Regions from separate parts of the Homo sapiens genome. Here region 2 is linked to region 1. Evidence: fine-mapped expression QTL. A gene starts in region 1. The other region holds a variant in brackets. All regions are shown on one strand. Distances are from middle to middle.

Region 1 (9,137 bases):
ACTATACCAACATGTTACCAGTGGCTGTTTTGAGGTACTGAAATTGCGGGAAATTTTTCTTAATTGGTCTGTATTTTCTAAATTTTCCACAGCATGCACATGGTGAAGCAGCACTGCACAGTGAGGGGCACACGGGCTTTGGGAGTCACACAGAGTTGGAGCCAGTCCCTAGCTCTGCCACATACTATAGGGAGAATGTCTAAGTCTTTTTTTTTTTTTTAAGGCAGGGTCTCGCTCTGTCATCCAAGCTGGAGTGCAGTGGTGCAATCATGGTTCATTGCAGCTTCTACCTCCCAGGCTCAAGCGATTCTCCCACCTCAGCTTCTCAAGTAGCTGGGACCACAGGTACATACCACCACATCTGGCTAGTTTTTAAATTTTTTGTAGAGGTGGGGTCTCGCTATATTGCCCAGGTTGGTGGTCTCAAACTCCTGGGCTCAAGAGATCCTCCTGCCTTGGCCTCCCAAAATGTTAGGATTACAGGTATGAGCCACCACACTGGGCCCTGAGTCTTTCCATCTTCATCTATTAATTGGCTTAGAGGTTGATAATGAGGACTAAATGTGATGATGCTTATCAGGTACCTATGGAGGTACTTGAGTGCACATTGTAGAGTGTATAGTCAGGAAGTCTAACTGGTGTATTATTTTTATAGACACAAGGATTAAAAAAAAAAAAAAACTCTTCAGCAGAGGCTCCCACCTGGACAGTTACTAAGGTTCTCTGGGTAGGAAATAATGCTGGCAGTCTGACATTTCTCACCCATTAACTTTTTTCCTATCTTAAATGCACTAAGATTCACCAGTCCTGTCCCTTGGGCTATGAACTCCTGGCCCTGTTGTTTAGAGTGAGTAACAGATTCAAGCTCCTCAGGACTGCAAAAGAGCAGGGCCCAAGCCACAAGCACAATGATATGCTCCCTCCATGACATGCAGACAGTGCCTCAATGGCAGAGGGTCCATGGAATTAGAAGGGGAAGAGGGAGCCTCTTCCCAAAAGAAAAACAAAGTTGCATGCAAACTGTACCTAAGCACTGTAAGACGATCTTAAAACTTTCACTTCTCCCAGGGGCCCTCCCAGAATAAGAAATTACTCTTATCCCCTTCCTTGAGATTATTATCCCTTCAGCAATGTTATTGGTTGATTTCTGTTCATATCATATAATAGCCTACACTTTACAGTTTTTCTCATCCTTTCCTATATACCTTCTCCACCTGCACAGTGTATACTATAGTTCGTCAATTAATAAAACACACAATCAAGTGTTTATTAAGTACTTATTTTGCTAAATGCCATGGAGAACCAAAGAAAAGGCTGTGCGCAGCAGAAAAAGTCTTGCATCAGAGAAAGCGGGCCTTGGTTCTTTTTAGTACTCCTTCTATCCGACATTTGGCCAAGTTACTTATCCTCTCTAGGCCTCAGTTTCCTTATGTGTAAATCGAGGGTAATAATAGTGTCTATGTCCTAGGGTTGCTGAAAGGATTAAATGCAACATTTATCCTTCTTGTACCTCAATTTAGTCATCACAACATTGTGATTAGGATTAAATGGGAAAATATTAATATAGGATATCTAAAAGCATGTAGCATGTAAGTGAGCTTTATTGTATTGTCCTTAAGAAGCTTGCAATCTAGTTAGGGAAACAAGAATCATATAGGTAGAAAGATTAGAAAATAAGAGGTTGGTGATAACCAAGATCATTTAAAAAAGTAAATGAGTGCCCATTATGTGTCAAGTCCTTTATAAGTGATCTCATCTAATAAGGAGAGGAGTCCTATGAGAAGATCATTCATGATCTCATCTACTCCAGTCTAGACCATTAGTATGTGGCAGAGTCAAGGCTGTAATAACTAAGAGGCAGGATTCAGACTCTTGTCTTACCTCTATATTTCCAAAGCTGAAGCATCATAAATACCAACTGCTGACTAAGCCAAGAGGATTGTCCCTGTGCAGTAGGAAAAGCTGGGCCACCAGGTTTAATGACCACCACCACTTGTTCTGGGCAGACGGTGTATCAGACACTGCACAGATTATTTAACCAACTTGTCTTTTCAACAGCTCTATCAGTTCTCGATAATCTTTGTTTTTTTGAGACGGAGTCTCACTTTGTTGCCCAGGCTGGAGTGCAGCGGCGCGAACTCTGCTCACTGCAACCTCCGCCTCCCAGGTTCAAGTGATTCTCCTGCTTCAGCCTCCCAAGTCGCTGGGATTAAAGGCGCCCGCCACCACGCCCGGCTAATTTTTGTATTTTTAGTAGAGATGCGGTTTCACCATGTTGGCCACGCTGGTCTTGAACTTCTGACCTCAGGTGATCCGCCCGCCTCGGCCTCCCAAAGTGCTAGGATTACAGGCGTGAGCCACCGTGGCCAGCCTCAATAATCTAATTTTTATTTAAAGAATAGGAAACACGACTTAAAGAGACTATTCATATTAACAGCTACTATTTATTGAAAGCTACAGCCTATCTAAGGTGGATGCTTTTGAATCTGAATCCATGTATATCCAAAACAGTTATTTATCACTAAGTAAAACAAACAAGATCCAGGGCTCCCCCGTTCACAGAATGGCCAAGCAAAGAGAAGTTGAGAGTGCAAGATTGCCTGTGGGGGCTAAGCTGGAGTTAAATTACGATCAAGTTTTTCTTTATTCAGAACTAGGTGTCAGGCACGGTACTAAAACGTATTCACACCCTCTGTGAAACCTGCTAATTACTCCATTTACACAGAAGGAAACTGAGGCTCAGAGAGGTGAGGGAACTCACCCAAGGTCACACAGCGAGCGAACAGTATTCGAACTCCAGTTTAGGTGAGTCCTGGGGCCCAGAGTCTTTCCTCGGCATCAACAACCACAGGAACAAATCACCCAGCATTAGTCCGTTTATAAAGGCCTACCGTCCCCAAAGTGAAAAGAGGTGGAAAGGGCCGCGGAAAGAGCCCCTGGAGCACACACGCCAGATCCCAGCACTTGTTCCTCCGACCTGGCCAGGCAGGGACTGTGCCCTAGAGCCAACTCCCTCAAAGTCCCCAGCCCCACCACTCGGAGGACTGACGACCCAGTTCTCCCGCAGGCCGGACCGCAGGCCCTACCGGCCTACCCGCAGGCCGACCTTTATTCGCCGGAGGTCCCCGCACTTGGGGTCGGGGCCGCAGCTGCCACTGTCTCAGCCCAAAACACCCGAGTTCTGCCAGACCCGGGGCAGCAGCCGACGCACTACCGCCATCTTGCCCCGCGGTGTTCGCTTTCAGAACCCCGCCAGGAAGCAAGCATCCAGTTCCGGAAAATGACAGTTCCGCAGAGCTTCTTCGCCCGGGAAGGAAAACTTCCCCACACCTTGCCTCCCCTCTGGCAGCTGAAATAGCGGAGGTGGGATAAATGCCCTCCCCAGCCGAGAAAAGCTGGAACCCACTCCGGCCGGGGAGGCTGGAAAGAAAACTGGCCCCTAGGCGCACAACGGACGGCTTAAGACGTTGCCCTCTGCGGGGCGGAAGTGGGGTGCGGACAGCGGAAGTTATCGCTCCGGCCCCGCCTCCGCCCCCGGCTGGCGTGAGCTGGGTGTTTCCTGCCTCTCTCAGTCCGGGTTTGGAGACTCCTGCGTCCTCCGACTTTTCATGGTAGGGAGGGCGGTGCCCATGGACTAGGGGTTGAGGGCGGCCGAGGGAGCTGGGCAGCAGCAGAGTATAAGAAGGGACCGAGAGGAGGGGGTGTGATGAGGGGCAGTCACGATAGTGGAGAGGCATTTGGGGGATTGGTTAGGGGAAAGGCCCGGGGTGGGGGAAGGGCTTTGGGTGGAGAATTAGGGGCGGGGGTGGTGGTAGGGAGGCTCCCTGGCGGTTAGGAATCCGGGAAGCACATTTGGGCTTGCGGAGTAGATACGTGTGTGCGTGAGGAAGGGGTGTCTCCAAGTGAGTCCTGAGTGCTGGTTGGAGATGGGAGTTGGTGATTGCGAGGAGAACAAAGAGATATCAATTGAAAACGGACATTTGGGGGTGGAAAATGAGGATTTGGAGGATTATGAAGGAGAATGAATGGGCAGGTTATGAGAAGGTGAGGTAGGATTCCTTGGGGCGGAGCGTTTGGCGTTTTGGAGGTTGTGGCTGGAGTCGCTGAGTTTCCAGGAAGTGGGGAAGGGGCTCCCAGGTGCGTCTGAACACACGGCCCAGTGAGGGAAAGAAATCGAGAGAGCCCAGCAGGCTGATGTGCGTTCAGTGCTTGGAATCCTGGGGAGAGATGCCAGGGGCCTGAGGTTAGGATACCTGCGCCACGGAGTTCAGTGCCTCAGCTGGCGCCTGGGTACCTATCTGTAACTTCCATTGAGGCCAGAGGTGACCACGCCTAAGGAGCGGAGGATGTTTCAAGATCTGTCTCTCAGCTGTGGGGTTTGTCTGCTTGGGATCCTCAAGGGTCTGTTCCCTGAGTAGCTCATTGTCCCTGGGTAGAGATGACCAAAGATTGGCCCAGATCTTCTTTCTACTTGCTTGCTTGTTTGTCACGTCCCTGGAAAGTGCAGTCTTAAGGGAAAATCAGTCCCAGTGACGCTGCTGAAGAAAAGTCAGTTATCCTGTAGCTGACGTTGACTAGTCCGCTCCATTTTGTGCAAAATAAGGACCAGCGGATGGGAAGAAGGCAGCATAAACCAGTGGTTCTCAAACTCTGGTCCCACCAGCAGCAACACCTGGTAACTTATTCAAAATGGCTGAAATTTCAAGCCCTGTCAGAGACTACTGAATCAGACATTCTTGGGGTGGAGCCCATCTATCGGTTTTAACAAGCCCTGCAAGGGATTAGACTAATGATTTCTTGATTTGGACTGTGTAATGAAAGGGGCAAAGGAGTTGGGAGTCAGAGGGCTCTTATAGGTGTGATTCCTAGTTTTCTCCCCAAAAAAGTGGGGTTGATGATAAACATCTTTCTCACTAGAACATTGAGAGAAATAGACCAAGAGTTTGTGTATTAAACACAGGGAGAGAATGTCATTTGATGGAAGTTGCAATTGGCGGTAGCTGTCTTATAAGCAAATTTTGGATGTAAAATGCTGCAATTATGTGACTTAGTTTAGTTGAAATGTAACAGCAGACTTTTCTGAGTTGTAGAAATGCCCTCAGTTTGGGAAGGTTTTATACAAGCCTCAATACAGTGTTTCTTAAACTTCTTTGCTGTAGGAATCCCCTGAGGTGATGCTTTGCCTCACATCCCTGGCAACTCTTAGATAAAGCTGGTTAAATACCTTAGCTAGGTGGCAGTAAGCCCTGGTCCCACATCCGAATCCCCCAAAGAGCTTTTTAAACACTAGTGACTGATCAGCCACCCCTCCGCATCTCTGAGATACTGATTAATTGATCTGGGGTGTAGCCCAGGCAAGCACAGGTGTGTGTGAGTTTGTTTTTGTTTTTTGGAGACAGGGTCTTGCTCTGTCGCCCAGGCTGGAGAGTGCACTGGTATTATCTTGGCTCACTAAAGCCTCACCTTCCCTGCCTCAAGCAGTCCTCCCACCGCAGTCTCCCGAGTAGCTGGGACTACAGGTGTGTGCCACCATGACCGGTTAATTTTTTTTTTTAATTTTTTTGTGGAGATTAGGTCTTATGTTGCTCAGGCTGGTCTCGAATTCCTGGGCTCAAGCAATCCTCCCGCCTCAGCCTCCCAAAGTGCTGGGATAATGGGTGTGAGCCACTGTGCCTGGCCTGGCATCATGTTTTTTAAGCACACGCAGGTGATTCTAGTAGCCAGGGTTGGGAACCACTGATCCCAATGTTTGAGACGCCCAAAGGAAACTACACAAAGGACTAGGTGCCAAATGCTTTAACATTCATTCTCTGAGGGTTTTGAAGATTATGGCTTTAACACTCCATTTTACAAGTTAGAAAACTGAGACTTGGGTTAAATTGCTTGAATTTCACGAAGGAAATGGTGGAACTGGATTGCAATCCAGGTTTGCCGAGACTATCCCGTTTTCCTTAACACACACACAGGCACACAAGACTTCTACAGAGAAGCATATAGAAAACGTGGGGTCAGGGATTTGGTGCGTTTTTTCCTACTGTACTTGCCTGAGCCTCCTTTTCAGTCGATGATTTTCCCCCTTCAGCTGATTTTTGTATTTTCATGCATGCATACAGTTGCTTCCTCCCTGTGGCTCTGAAGCTGTGAAGTGGGGGCTGGCTTTGGTTTATGGTGTTTTGGTTTGTTTTTAATGTGTCAGGTCAGGAATTCACTGGGCCAAGACCGTGGAGTTAATGGTAGCTTAAATAAGGGGTACAGTGCTTTTTAGAATAGTGGGCTCTAATCTTGGTGGGCTTTAAAATCTCCTGAGGGAGTTTTAAAAATTCTGTTGCCTAGTCCACATCCCGGACCAATTACATCAGAATTTTCATGGTAGGACCTAGGTGTCAGGAGTTTTGAGCTCCCAGCTGATTTCGATTGTCACCAACTGGAGAGCCACTGTTTAGAATCAGCAACATTATATTCAGGGGAGATGGAGAGAAGAGAGACTGACCATTTAACTGGAATAAACTTCTGATTGAATCAGATCCGTAGCCAGTATCTCAAGTATTCATTGCCTCTCTGTTTCATGTAACCAATTTTGCTGTCTCCTGCTTCACCTCCCCAGCTTCATTGGTAATGAAATCAAACCTTTGAAACAAGTCAAAAAGCAGGATCCTGGCCAGGCACGGTGGTTCATGCCTGTAATCTCAGCACTTTGGGAGGCCGAGGCAGATGGATCACTTGAGGTCGGGAGTTCGAGACCAGCCTGACCAATGTGGAGAAATCCCGTCTGTACTAAAAATACAAAATTAGCCAGTCGCGGTGGCTCACACCTGTAATCCGAGCACTTTGGGATGCCGAGGCAGAAGGATCACCTGAGGTCAGGAGTTTGAGACCAGCCTGACCAACATGGTGAAACCCCATCTCTACTAACAATATAAAATTAGCCAGGTGTGGTGGTGCATGCCTGTAATCCCAGCTACTCGGGAGGGTGAGGCAGGAGAATTGCTTGAACCTGGGAGGCAGACGTTGCGGTGAGCTGAGATCGTGCCGTTGTACTGTAGCCTGGGCAATAAGAGCAAAACTCAGTCTCAAAAAAAAAAAAAAAAGCAGGATTCCAGTAGCAACAGTGGGGAGAGTCCTCCCTAGAGAGGTTTGCTATGGTGGGGGTCTCTGGTCCACTGCCTCGTGTCCTAAGTTCACTGTAACTTGGGCTCAAGGACACGAATGCTGCCAAAACTTTTCCCCCAAGGGCCTTGCCTACTATTAGGTTGACTGACCTTTGGAGAGGGTGAGCTCTGAAAAGGTTTAGAGCTTTTGTTGCCTAATCTGTAGTCTCATTCTAGATCAGGATGGCTCCTGCCTTTATCTCTTAGTCATGCCGTCTGCCATTAGAGCTGGAAACAGTTTCCAAAGAGAAGATAGTTTGAGACTTCGGGAGCATTCTCAAATCATCATAATTTGAGTGTTTGGAGTGTTTACTCAGAGCTAGGGAGCCCTGTGAGGGAGGTGAGGCTTTTGGCCCTGGACACAGCTACTAAGTGGTAGGGCTGGGGCCTTATGCACAGGTCTAACTCCAAACCCTTAGCCACACTTTACCTCGCGACTATTTTCAGGGCTTTTTGTACTTTTTAAAGAAGGGAGGTGAGGCTGGCCTTTCTCAGCTTATGTATCATAGCTCTCAATCTACTAGGTGTGATGGTCTCTGGGCCAGCCACCACTTGCCCATGTCCTTCACTGGCCCCGTCACTGACTCAACTCCAGCTTGAGAGTGACTGACCCTGATGGGGCTGTGGCATCCAAATCCACAAAATGGAAATAACTATAGCTGTCTTCCAGCATTGTTTGAATTTGTAAAAGGCATGTGGTAGAAATGCAGTGGTCAAGGGACACCGAGGGGCTTTCTGGAGGCATGGAAATGTTCCAAGACAGCTTGATTGGAGTGGGGGCTACACAGGTGCAAGTATTGACCAAAACACATCAAACTGTACACTTAAAGTATACTTCATTATGTGCAAATTATCTTTAAAAAGGTATTGGAAAGCCAAAAAAGGTACAGTCATGCGCACATAATGACAGTTTGGTTAGTGACAGACTGCGTATATAACAGTCCCTTAAGATTATAATGGAACTGAAAAATTCCTGTAGCCCAGTGATAGTGTAGCTGTCATTTCAGTGGTAGCACAACATATTACGTGTTCGTGGTGATGCTGGTGTAAACAGAACTACTTTGCTGCCAGTTGTATAAGTCTAGCACACACAATTATGTACAGTACATAATAGTCGATAATAGTAATGAACTTGATAGATATATCACTGGTTAATGTATTTACTATTAATGGTTATTTTAGAATATACTCCTACCTGCCTTTTTTTTTTTAAGTGAAAACTGTAAAACAGCCTCAGGCAGGTGCTTCTGGAGGTATCCCAGAAGAAGGGATTCTTACGGGAGATGACAGTTCCATGCGTGTTACTGTCCCTGAAGACCTTCTAGTGGGACAGGATGTGGAGGACAGTGATACTGATAATCCTGACCCTGTGTAGGCTAGGCTAATGTGTGTGTATTTTGTAGTTTTGGATAAAAAAGTTTAAAAAGTAAAAAAAGAGAAAAAAGCTTATAGAATAAGGATATAAAGAAAGAAAATATTTTTGTACAGCTGTGCAATATGTGTTTTAAGCTATGTTATTACAAAAGGGTCCAAAAGTTAAAAAAAAATTAAAAAGTTTTTAAAGTAAAAAGTTACAGTAAGCAAAGGTTAATTTATTATGGAAAGAAAAAATATTTTAAATAAATGTAGTGTGGCCTCCCTGTGCAGTGTTGATAAAGCTACAGTAGTGTACAGTAATGTCCTAGACCTTCACATTTACTCACCACTCGCTCACCCAGAGCAATTTCCAGGCCTACACACTCCATTCATGGTAAGTGTCCTATACAAGTATGCCATTAGAAAAAAATCCTTCATATCACATATTTACTGTGCTTTGACTTTACATGAAGTATACTTTATGTACTTTTTTGTCTGTTTCATGATAGGCACCTTCCAAAATGCTAGATCGTTTCCCATAACAAGCATTTATTATATAAAATTAGATCTGAAAGGGGTGCTTAAAAAGTATTTGCATTTTGGGGCAAATTTCCTCAACACACACCCTCACCC
Region 2 (9,137 bases), 26 kb after region 1:
CTGCCCTTGGGTAGTAAGAGGAGAGTCACCATATTGATTAAGCTTTAAAAGATTAAGACTTCTCATTTTTAGAGCTTAATAAGGAACAAGGGGATTTAGAGACCACATGGTCTGATCCCAACTGTTTCTAGATTAGCAGACAGGTTCAGGAGTGGCATGTTCTTGTGTTTGTAAAGCTAGTTAGTGGCAGAGCCAGGATGGGAAGCCAAGGGCCTCTTTCTTTTCTCTTTGTTTTGAGAGAGAGTGTTGCTCTGTCACCCAGGCTTGAGTACAGTGACACAATCATAGCTCAATGCAGCCTTGAACTCCTGGGCTCAAGTGATCCTCCTGCCTCAGCCTCCTGAGTAGCTGGGTCCACAGGTGCATGCTACTACACCTGGCTCATTTTATTTATTTTTGTAGGGACTGGCTTTCACTATGTTGCCCAGGCTGGTCTCGACCTCCTGGCCTCAAGTGGTCCTTCTACCTTGGCCTCCCAAAGTGTTGGGATTACAGGCATGAGCCACTGCACCCAGCCCATATCACTCTCCTCTCCTGTCTCATCTCCACTCTGTTATTGAGCCCTGCTGGTAAGTTGTGTTTTTGTTTGAGGTTGTTGGTTATTGTATTTGTCAGTTCTCAAGTGCTCATTTGGTTTTTCTGTCTCCTTGCTGAGACTCCCTATGTTTCCATTTGCTCTAAGAGCATTGGCCCTTACTTACTGGAACAGGTTAATAATAGCTGCTGCCAGGTCTTTGTCAGGTAATTCCAAAACCTTGTGTCACCTTGGCGCTAGCATCTGTGAGTTATTTCCCACAGGAGTTGAGAATTTCTTGGTTCTTGTGTATTGAGAAATTTTGATTGTATCCTAAACATTTTGAATATTGTTAAAGGACTCCAGGCCTTGTTTAAATCCTAGGGAGAACATTGATGTTTTTGTTTTAGCAGGCAATTGACCCAGTTGGGCTCAGGCTGCAAGCTCTAACCAGCCTTCTGTAGTTTGTAGTTGCGGTGACAGTTTGATTTTCAAAGCCTTCAAATCTGTCCTAGCTGTGTGCCATGCTGTGGCCCGTCTGTCCTGGGCAGTATCTCTTGCAGCATTCAGTTCTTTCAGTCTGCGTATGCAGTTTAGGGGTAGATCTTGCAGCTGGGTGTGGGTCTAGGAGTTCATATACAACTTCACAGGCTGCTTTCTCAAGCTCCTCTTCTCCGCAGTTCTCTAAGCTTCCCTGGAGTCCCCTTCTCTGATCGGCCAGCCAGAAAGCTGGGGGTTTGGTTATTCCCCCTTTGCCACCCACTTTCTGTAACCATGCCTGTATTTTGGGCCCAGGAGCATGAAGATAGAAAAAGCAACCAGATTCTCCCAATCCTGCTGAGACCACAGCTCTTCTCATCAGAAAAGAAGGTTCCTTCCCTCAGAGTTTTGACTCCTGCAGTCTCTGGTTGCTGCCACAGGAATGCTCAGGTCTGGGTGCAAGAAAATAAAGAAAAGGACTGAGCATGGTGGCTCACACCTGTAATCCCGCACTTTGGGAGGCCAAAGCAGAAGGATTGCTTGAGTCCAGGAGTTTAAGACCAGCCTGGGCAACATAGCAACACCCCTGTCTCTACCAAAAATTTTTTAAAAAATAGCTGGGCATGGTGGTGTGTGCCTGTAGTCTAAACTACTTGGGAGGCTGAGGTGGGAGAATCATTTAAGCCCAGTAGTTCAAGACCAGCCTGGGCAACATAGCAACACACTCATCTCTACAAAAAGTTAGTTGGGCATGGTGATGCATGCCTATAGTCTCAACTACTTGGGGAGGCTGAGGTGGGAGAATCATTTGAGCCTAGGCGTTCAAGGCTGCAGTGAGCTATGATTGTGCCACTGCACTCCAGCCTGGGTGACAGAGCAACACTCCCTCTCAAAACAAAAAAGAGAAAAGAAAGAGGCCCTTGGACTCCCGTCCTGGCTCTGCCCCTAACCAGCTTCACAAACACAAGAACACGCCACTCCTGAACCTGGTCTGTGAATCAAGAAACAGTTGGGATCAGACCATGTGGTCTCTAAATCCCCTTGCTCCTTATTAAGCTCTAAAAATGAGAAGTCTTAAAATTTTAAAGCTTAATTAGCCAGATCCCATATCTTTTAAAAAAAAAGGAAAGAAAACCAGGATTTCCTCCCAGCCTCTCTGCCTGTTAGACTCTGTTGGCCTCCCTGGCCACTAGAGACCTTCTGGAGGTCTTCTGTCCTGGTGCCATTTCAGGGTTTCAGGCTGCATCAGTGCTGGCAGCAGCAAACAGTAAACTCACTGTTGGGCATTACTCCAAATTCTGTTGTTTCCCCCATCTGCCTGCCATGATTTACTTCTGAGTCCACAGTTAGCTGCTGTGTGCATCCCATTCTGGCTTTGTAGTGTCAGTGAGGAAGACGGGGTAGAGTGTGCCTGCTCCATTTTTCCCAGAACCTCCGAATTCCACCCTGAAAGTGGAGTCTAGTCTGATCAAATGTGTGGGACCTGCTTATGTGGCCCTCTTCCTGTTCATCACACCTTAACCCTGAAGGGCAATGAGCAAACACAATGATTTGCCAAACAGCAGAAGGGCTCATGCCCATTTCGTGGGAGTCCCCAGCTGGACCCTGTACAAAAAACTGCTTTAGAGACTGCTTTAAGGTGTGGAAGGACTTCTGTGCAAGGTTGCAGCTCTGTTAGGAGAAGCATATTAGCACTGACCTAAATGGCCATCCAAGTATGGTTAATTGCATTGTCGTATTTATAATTCCTTGATACAGAATGATCTCTAGGTTAAGTTAGGCACAAGAGGAAGACATGTACAACTCTGTGTGGTGGGCCACCTTGTGTGTTTTTTGAAGTGTGTGAATAAATATGTGTATTACACATATTTACATGCACAGAATCTTTGAGAGGGTAAAATGATGAGAAACTGTACCTTTAAGAAGGGAAACTAGGGGCAGGGAGACCTGTTTCTCTGCATCCCCTTGATTTTCTGTGCATTTAGCACCACATGTAAGTGTTGCCATTGAAAATATCAGTTTATTTAAAAATAATACTGGTGGCCTTCAGCAGAATCCCAGGGGCCTGATTTAGCCTGGCGGCCCTGCTTAAAGTCCAGGTGTTGGCAGAGGGGGTGGGCCATAACTTACCTGCCCTGTATACTGTGGGAACACAGGTGGAGTTTCCCGAAGCCCGGATTTATGAGGAGACCCTGAACATTTTGCTGTATGAGGCCCAGGATGGCCGGGGACCTGACAATGCGCTCCTGGAGGCCACAGGCGGGGCGGCGGGGCGCTCCCACCACCTGGACGAGGACGAGGAGCGGGAGCGGATCGAGCGCGTGCGGAGGATCCACATCAAGCGCCCTGATGACCGGGCCCACCTCCACCAGTGAGCAGGCAAGAGACCGAGCCGCCCTCCTCTCACCGCCCCCACTCCCTGCCGTGCTACACCCAGATCCTGTGCAGGCTGCCGGGCCCCTTCTGCTTCCCTTGGAGCCTGGAGATACTTTTGTAACAAGCCAGATGATTATTTTGGTATTGCTTGACAAGGCAAATTGATTGTCTTGACCCAGGCGTATGACCCCTGTCGTTGAACAAGCTGTGTCTAAGATCTCTACTTTTCATGAGAATCTGAGACTCTTTGGAGCCAGGCTTTCTCGGTTCTCAGAGGAAAAGTATGAATGAGTGTGAAGTGTATGTGAGAACTTTTGTTTGCAATATTTATTTTTGTGGGTGTCGACTTCCTATGTGGGCTTTTTGGGTGACACTCCCTTAAGGGTTCAGTTTGACAATTCTGAGAGTTGTCCTGCAGTTGGAGGCCACCAGAGGTATCTGAGCTCCCTGCTTCCTATTTCATAATCCTCCAGCCCCAGCAGGTCCACTCCTGGTTCCTGTGTGTTTGGCCCGGGCACAATCCCCACTGCTTTGCTAGACGTGCTTTCTGCCATGTGGCTTTGGGCCTAGAGCTTGTTGATAATTGCAGCTTGTGGCAGTGGAAATATGGCTGAATGAGCGTCTAAATCGTTGAGACCAGTGCAACTTTGGGTGCAAGGCTTTGTTTAGGGATCAAGCCTTTTGCCACCTTGGGCTGGTCTTTGGCCTGGTGCTCACTGGGACCCCATATGTCTGCGTAGGAGCAGAACTTTCCATGGCAGTAAGTGTCCAGCTCTGTTTCTGGTTCTTTCCCCAACTCCAGCCCCGTCCAGTTGTTCTCCTGATTGACCCGACTCCACTCCAGGAAGGCCATCTGACCCTGTGACAGGCATAGCTCATAAACTACCCCTCCCTGGGATCCCGCTCCTCTTCAGCC[T/C]CCTTCCCCATGAAGCTGGGCTAACTTTCTAAGTCATTTTGCTTAGAAATTCAGTGTGGCCCATACCCTTTGTCCTCCCAGCCTGGCATCCAGGCAGGGACACCCTCACACCACCAGCCCCAGGGAGCTTCCCTGCTATAAACACAGACCCCCTTGTCTTTGCCTCTGATTTTTACACAGTGTAGAGTGGCCAGCAGTGAACAGGTTGAGGATGTGCGGGTAGATAGATAACTTTGGGTCTGGTTTGTGTCTGTGTTCATGTTTGTTTAAGGGATATGTGTGACTGTGGGTGGGGACGTGTGCTTGTGGGGCACAGGTGGCGGCCCCTGCTGGAGCCCGGCTGGGCGCAGCGCCTATGTAGGACGGGTGTTCTCAGTGACCTACCTCCCAGGCTCCTCTGCACCTGCAAAGGAACAGGAGTGAGTCGTGACTGACAGGGGTGGTTGAGACTAGACTAGGTAGAGTAGTTACCAGGAGATGTGAATGTGCGTCAGGTGATGGATGGGTTTGTCAAGGGAATCGTTACCGTTTTATACCAAAGGTATTAACATGGGCAGCCTTTGACACATGTATTCCAAAAACGAGTTTATATTTTCAAACGGTTTTTACAGCTTAGACTTTGTACTTACTGCCCTGCCTGTGACAGTTGTATGCCTTCATTTTGTATCCAACAGCAAAGTCTACAATAAAACTTTAAAACAATCATGACTGAATGTCAAAATCGTGTATTGGGCAGATGCTTTTTAAACTGTCGTGTGAGAAACTTTTATATTAGGCCATTTGGATTTTATTAAGTGCTAAGGAAAGAGGGCTTACAAAATGTTTCGTAAATATTTTATACTGTTTAAGTGTTAAACACCAACCCTGTCTTTCTTTTGGGTTGAGCTTTTTTAGAAAGTCGAAGTGAATGTTGGCCAGGAAAATGGAAAAGCCATTGTATAAATTTTTTTTTGAGGCGGAGTCTTGCTCTATTGGCCAGGCTGGAGTGTAGTGGCACCATCTCCACTTACCACAACTTGTGCCTCCTGGGTTCAAGCGATTCTGCTGCCTCAGCCTCCCGAGTAGCTGGGATTGCAGGTACCCATCAGCCCATGCCCAGCTAATTTTGTATTTTTAGTAGAGATGGGGTTTCACCATGTTGGCCAGGCTGGTCTTGAACTCCTGACCCTGTGATCCGACCACCTTGGCCTCCCAAAGTGCTGGGATTACAGGTGTGAGTCACCACACCTGGCTGCATAGTGTTTTAAATGTTTGTGTGAAGAATGAGTTTGTGGAACAATTTGATTTGCTGTGGCCTCTATGCCTAATGAGCTAGTGTTTCTGGCAGCTCTCTCTACCCAACTTTGCACTTGTAGTTTTGAGTCTTTGTCTCTCTGGAATATGAACAGGTTTATAAAACATTCCATGGTGAACAATTCTGTCGGCTGCATTATAGCCATGAGTGAATAGACAGCATTGGCTGGTCCAAGCTCTGTTATTGAGTATACAAGGAACTGATTTTTCTTATGTTAGCACTAAGGGCAAAAACCAATATTTATAATGTAAGCACTATCCAGGTAAAACACTGGCCCAAGATTTGGTAAAGAGATTTCATTGCAATGTAATAACTACAGTTTTTTACAAATTGGAACAGCTTTGGTGTGTCGTAATCAAGGGTTTTTTTTGTTTGTTTGTTTCAAATAAGCCATCTGATTGTGGTGACTGGGGCCCATGTCCAAGACAATTCCTGGCATATTCTGTCACCCTCCCGTGGGGCGATCACTGTGTGGGGACCCCATTCCCCAGTTAAAGTGTGTCTCTGTACCTTACAACAGCGATTCAGGACCCAAGTGTGAACAACACTCAGCCCGCCCTCTGGAGCGTGTGCTGTCTTTAGGGCCCTACCCAAAGTCACTGTAACAGTTAAGTGTGTCATTAACCTTTCTGTCTCTTTGCGCCATAAAAAAATGCTCAAAGTTTTAGATGTAGCCACTGTATGTTGTACAAACGTTGGCGACATGTAAAATAAAAGTCATAAAATGCTTCTGTTTTCTGGCTCTTTTCAGGCATGCCCGGCATAACCAGGCCCCTAAAATCGGTTTACAACAAAGGCAGGGCCCCCACGTTCTGCCTCAGCCCCTTAAAGTCGCTCCAGGTGGAAGGGAAAAGACAGTCATGTTTCTGTAGTGTTTGTTTGAATTCAAACACCAAAAGGAAGTCTTGGGGTCAAAGGCTGCCTGGCTCATGAAAAAGTGAATCAGCTGGTGTTACCACTGATTTGCTATTATGGGGCAGAGGGCTTCAGTTCACCAAACCCAATCCCTTGACACATGTGAGTTCCATTTATTTAAAGCAAAATTCAAATTTCACAGCTTTAGGAAATTTCCTTTACTTAGTCTCAGACCATGCACAGTAAGTCATCGATAGGTTCTTGGAAGCTGAGACTTGAAGCAAAACCATGAGGCTAATGGATGTAAACAAGAGTTAAATTCCTACAGCATGTTGCTGGGCACAAAAACATCACCCAATTTCTAAATAAAGACCAAAGCACTTCTCATATTAAACTGTGAAATACATGAGCTACACGTATATTTAATTAAATCAAAAATAAGACCATATTACCTAAGTTTTGGTGAATCGGTAAGTGATGGTGGTCACAGTGGTGGCCGCATACATCAGTAAATAAACGCTTGCAAAGGTGAGATTATACGGAGCCCCTCCCCAGTCACAAGCGTGGCAGGCTCGCTACACGCTTTTGCGCTGTGGCATTTATTGTCCATTTGTGTGCTCATATGCTTTATATACATTTTTATTTTACAATAAAATTTGTATTCATTCGTTCTCCAACCTGCACGTTCAGGGTTGCAGATGGCCAGAGCCCAATCCCAGCAGCTCAGGGCAGAAGGCGGGACCCACCCTGGACAGGATGTCCTCCTCTCACGGGGCTCACGCACCCACACTCACTCAGACTGGGACCGCATAGACACGCCAGTGCACCTGACACACACACCTTGGGGACGTGGGAGGAAACCAGAGCACCCAGAAGAAACCCAGAGACATGGGGAGAACATACAGACTCCACCCAGACAGTGGCCCTGCCCAGGAATCAGATGTCTTATCAACATATAACGAAATGTTATTTGAGAACTTGCTGTACACAGTATTTCATCATGTCTCAGGGCAGCTTGACAGAGGTAGAGAATCTTGCCCACCCTCTAATGACACGTTGGACTGCGCACTGAACATAGATCCTGTCGAGGGTGTTTAGAATTGCGCCTTCGGGTGACCTGGGGTCTGCTTCCAGAAGGTGACATTTTAAATAAGGTGCCATGGGGCAGCTGAGGAGCTGGGATTAGGCTTTGGCCTAACGCCCCTCAGTTTCTTCAGATGTGATCTGTTAGTGCTGCGGGCCTGGTACCTTGAAGAGGTAGCTAACTGGATCCAATCCCCACTTCCCCTGTAGTTTCCTCAGTTGGAGCAAAAATGGCGATGGTAGAGGTCAGACGTCATCCTCTATCAGGACTTCCTCCGGACTGACACCTGGGAGAGAGTCACACTTCGGTTTACAGCCCTTCCCCGCTCCCTTTGCGCAAAAGGAAACAGTTATCACCTCAACTGTCACCATTAGCAAGGTGGGTGTGGAGGGCCTGTGAGAAGCCAGTGCCACCTCCCATGAGACAAGCCAGACTTAGAAACTGGCTCATCGAGGCCTGTCAGCCTCTTCAGCCAGAACCAGTCAGGGAGGAAGATGGACTCCGTGTGACTCCAGAGGAGAGAGACACAGTCTCTGGGGTGTCACTTTTAAGACAGTGTGTAAACTAAAAAGACACCTTATAGTCTACATCCAAAATGATCCTTATTTTAACTTGTCCCCAAAGGAGTTCATTGTGTCTAGGGGCAATTATTTTATATCTACAAAATGATTTTATTTTTTTGAGATGGAGTCTCACTCTATCGCCCAGGCTGGAGTGTAGTGGTGCGATCTCAGCTCACTGCAACCTCCGCCTCCTGTGTTCAAGCAATTCTCCTGCCTCAGCCTCCCTGAGTATCTGGAACTATAGGCATGTGCCACCATGCTCAACTAATTTTTGTATTTTTAGTAGAGACGGAGTTCACCATGTTGGCCAGACTGGTCTCGAACTCCTGACCTCAGGTGATCTGCCCATCTCGGCCTCCCAAAGTGCTGGGATTATAGGCGTGAGCCACCGCGCCGGGCCTGCAAAATGACTTTATAGGTAAATCCACTTAAATTTAAATGTGTATGAGACACTCCATGTTCACAGACCATTTTTTAATTAATTTGTATCAAAATTCTTCCTATAATACAAGATACATTTTAAAGATTCAGCTCCCTCTGCTTTTAACATGTCGTTTTCAGCAAAACTGGATCAAAACAAGCTCCGTGTACTAGCAGCCAGCGAGGACCACTGGGACCCTCAGCCCAGCATGGGCACAGTCAGGGAAGGCAGCGTACTTGTGTGCTCAGGCTAGACTTCTCCCTAACGTAGCCATGGTTCCCAAACCTCTGTGCTTGTTAGATCCATTTTATACCAAAGGTATTAACATGGGCAGCCTTTGACACATGTATTCCAAAAAGCAACTTTATATTTTCTTACATATTTTTTACACATTTCTTTCTTACATATTTTTCTTACGTTTATATTTTCTTGCATCCTGAAGCCTAAGCCGCACCTCCAACCAATTAAGTCTCAGTATCTGGGTGGGACACAAGCGCATTGATTTCCACGTGGGGGGAAGTTATGGATAGTTATGGATAACTGTAATAAGCGTGAAGCCTTTATCCAGTGAAAAGTTAGACTCTGCTATTTGGGAAGTGTCTCATGTCAGCTTCTGGTTCACTGACAAGGATGG

The links. PIP is the estimated chance that this variant, and not a neighbour inherited with it, causes the effect.
Region 2: its variant is fine-mapped to the expression of KCTD10 in lung (TOPMed, PIP above 0.99). The same link has a PIP of 0.9 or more in fibroblasts, subcutaneous fat, tibial artery and tibial nerve.

What each region holds. Positions count from the first base shown.
Region 1 is chr12:109,471,734-109,480,870 of GRCh38, reverse strand. KCTD10 (potassium channel tetramerization domain containing 10) reads left to right here and starts at 3,571. Exons shown (of 7, transcript NM_031954.5): 1 at 3,571-3,611. The coding sequence starts at 3,609. UBE3B (ubiquitin protein ligase E3B) reads right to left here and starts at 3,237. Exons shown (of 28, transcript NM_130466.4): 1 at 2,762-3,237. RefSeq lists enhancers at 3,325-3,414, 3,923-4,658.
Region 2 is chr12:109,445,827-109,454,963 of GRCh38, reverse strand. It overlaps MYO1H (myosin IH), which reads right to left. Exons shown (of 32, transcript NM_001101421.4): 32 at 6,585-7,805. The coding sequence ends at 7,782. KCTD10 (potassium channel tetramerization domain containing 10) reads left to right here. Exons shown (of 7, transcript NM_031954.5): 7 at 3,151-6,309. The coding sequence ends at 3,369. Among named protein-coding and RNA genes, the nearest start is that of KCTD10, 27 kb to the left of the region's middle. The variant T/C (reference allele first, on the strand shown) is at 4,287.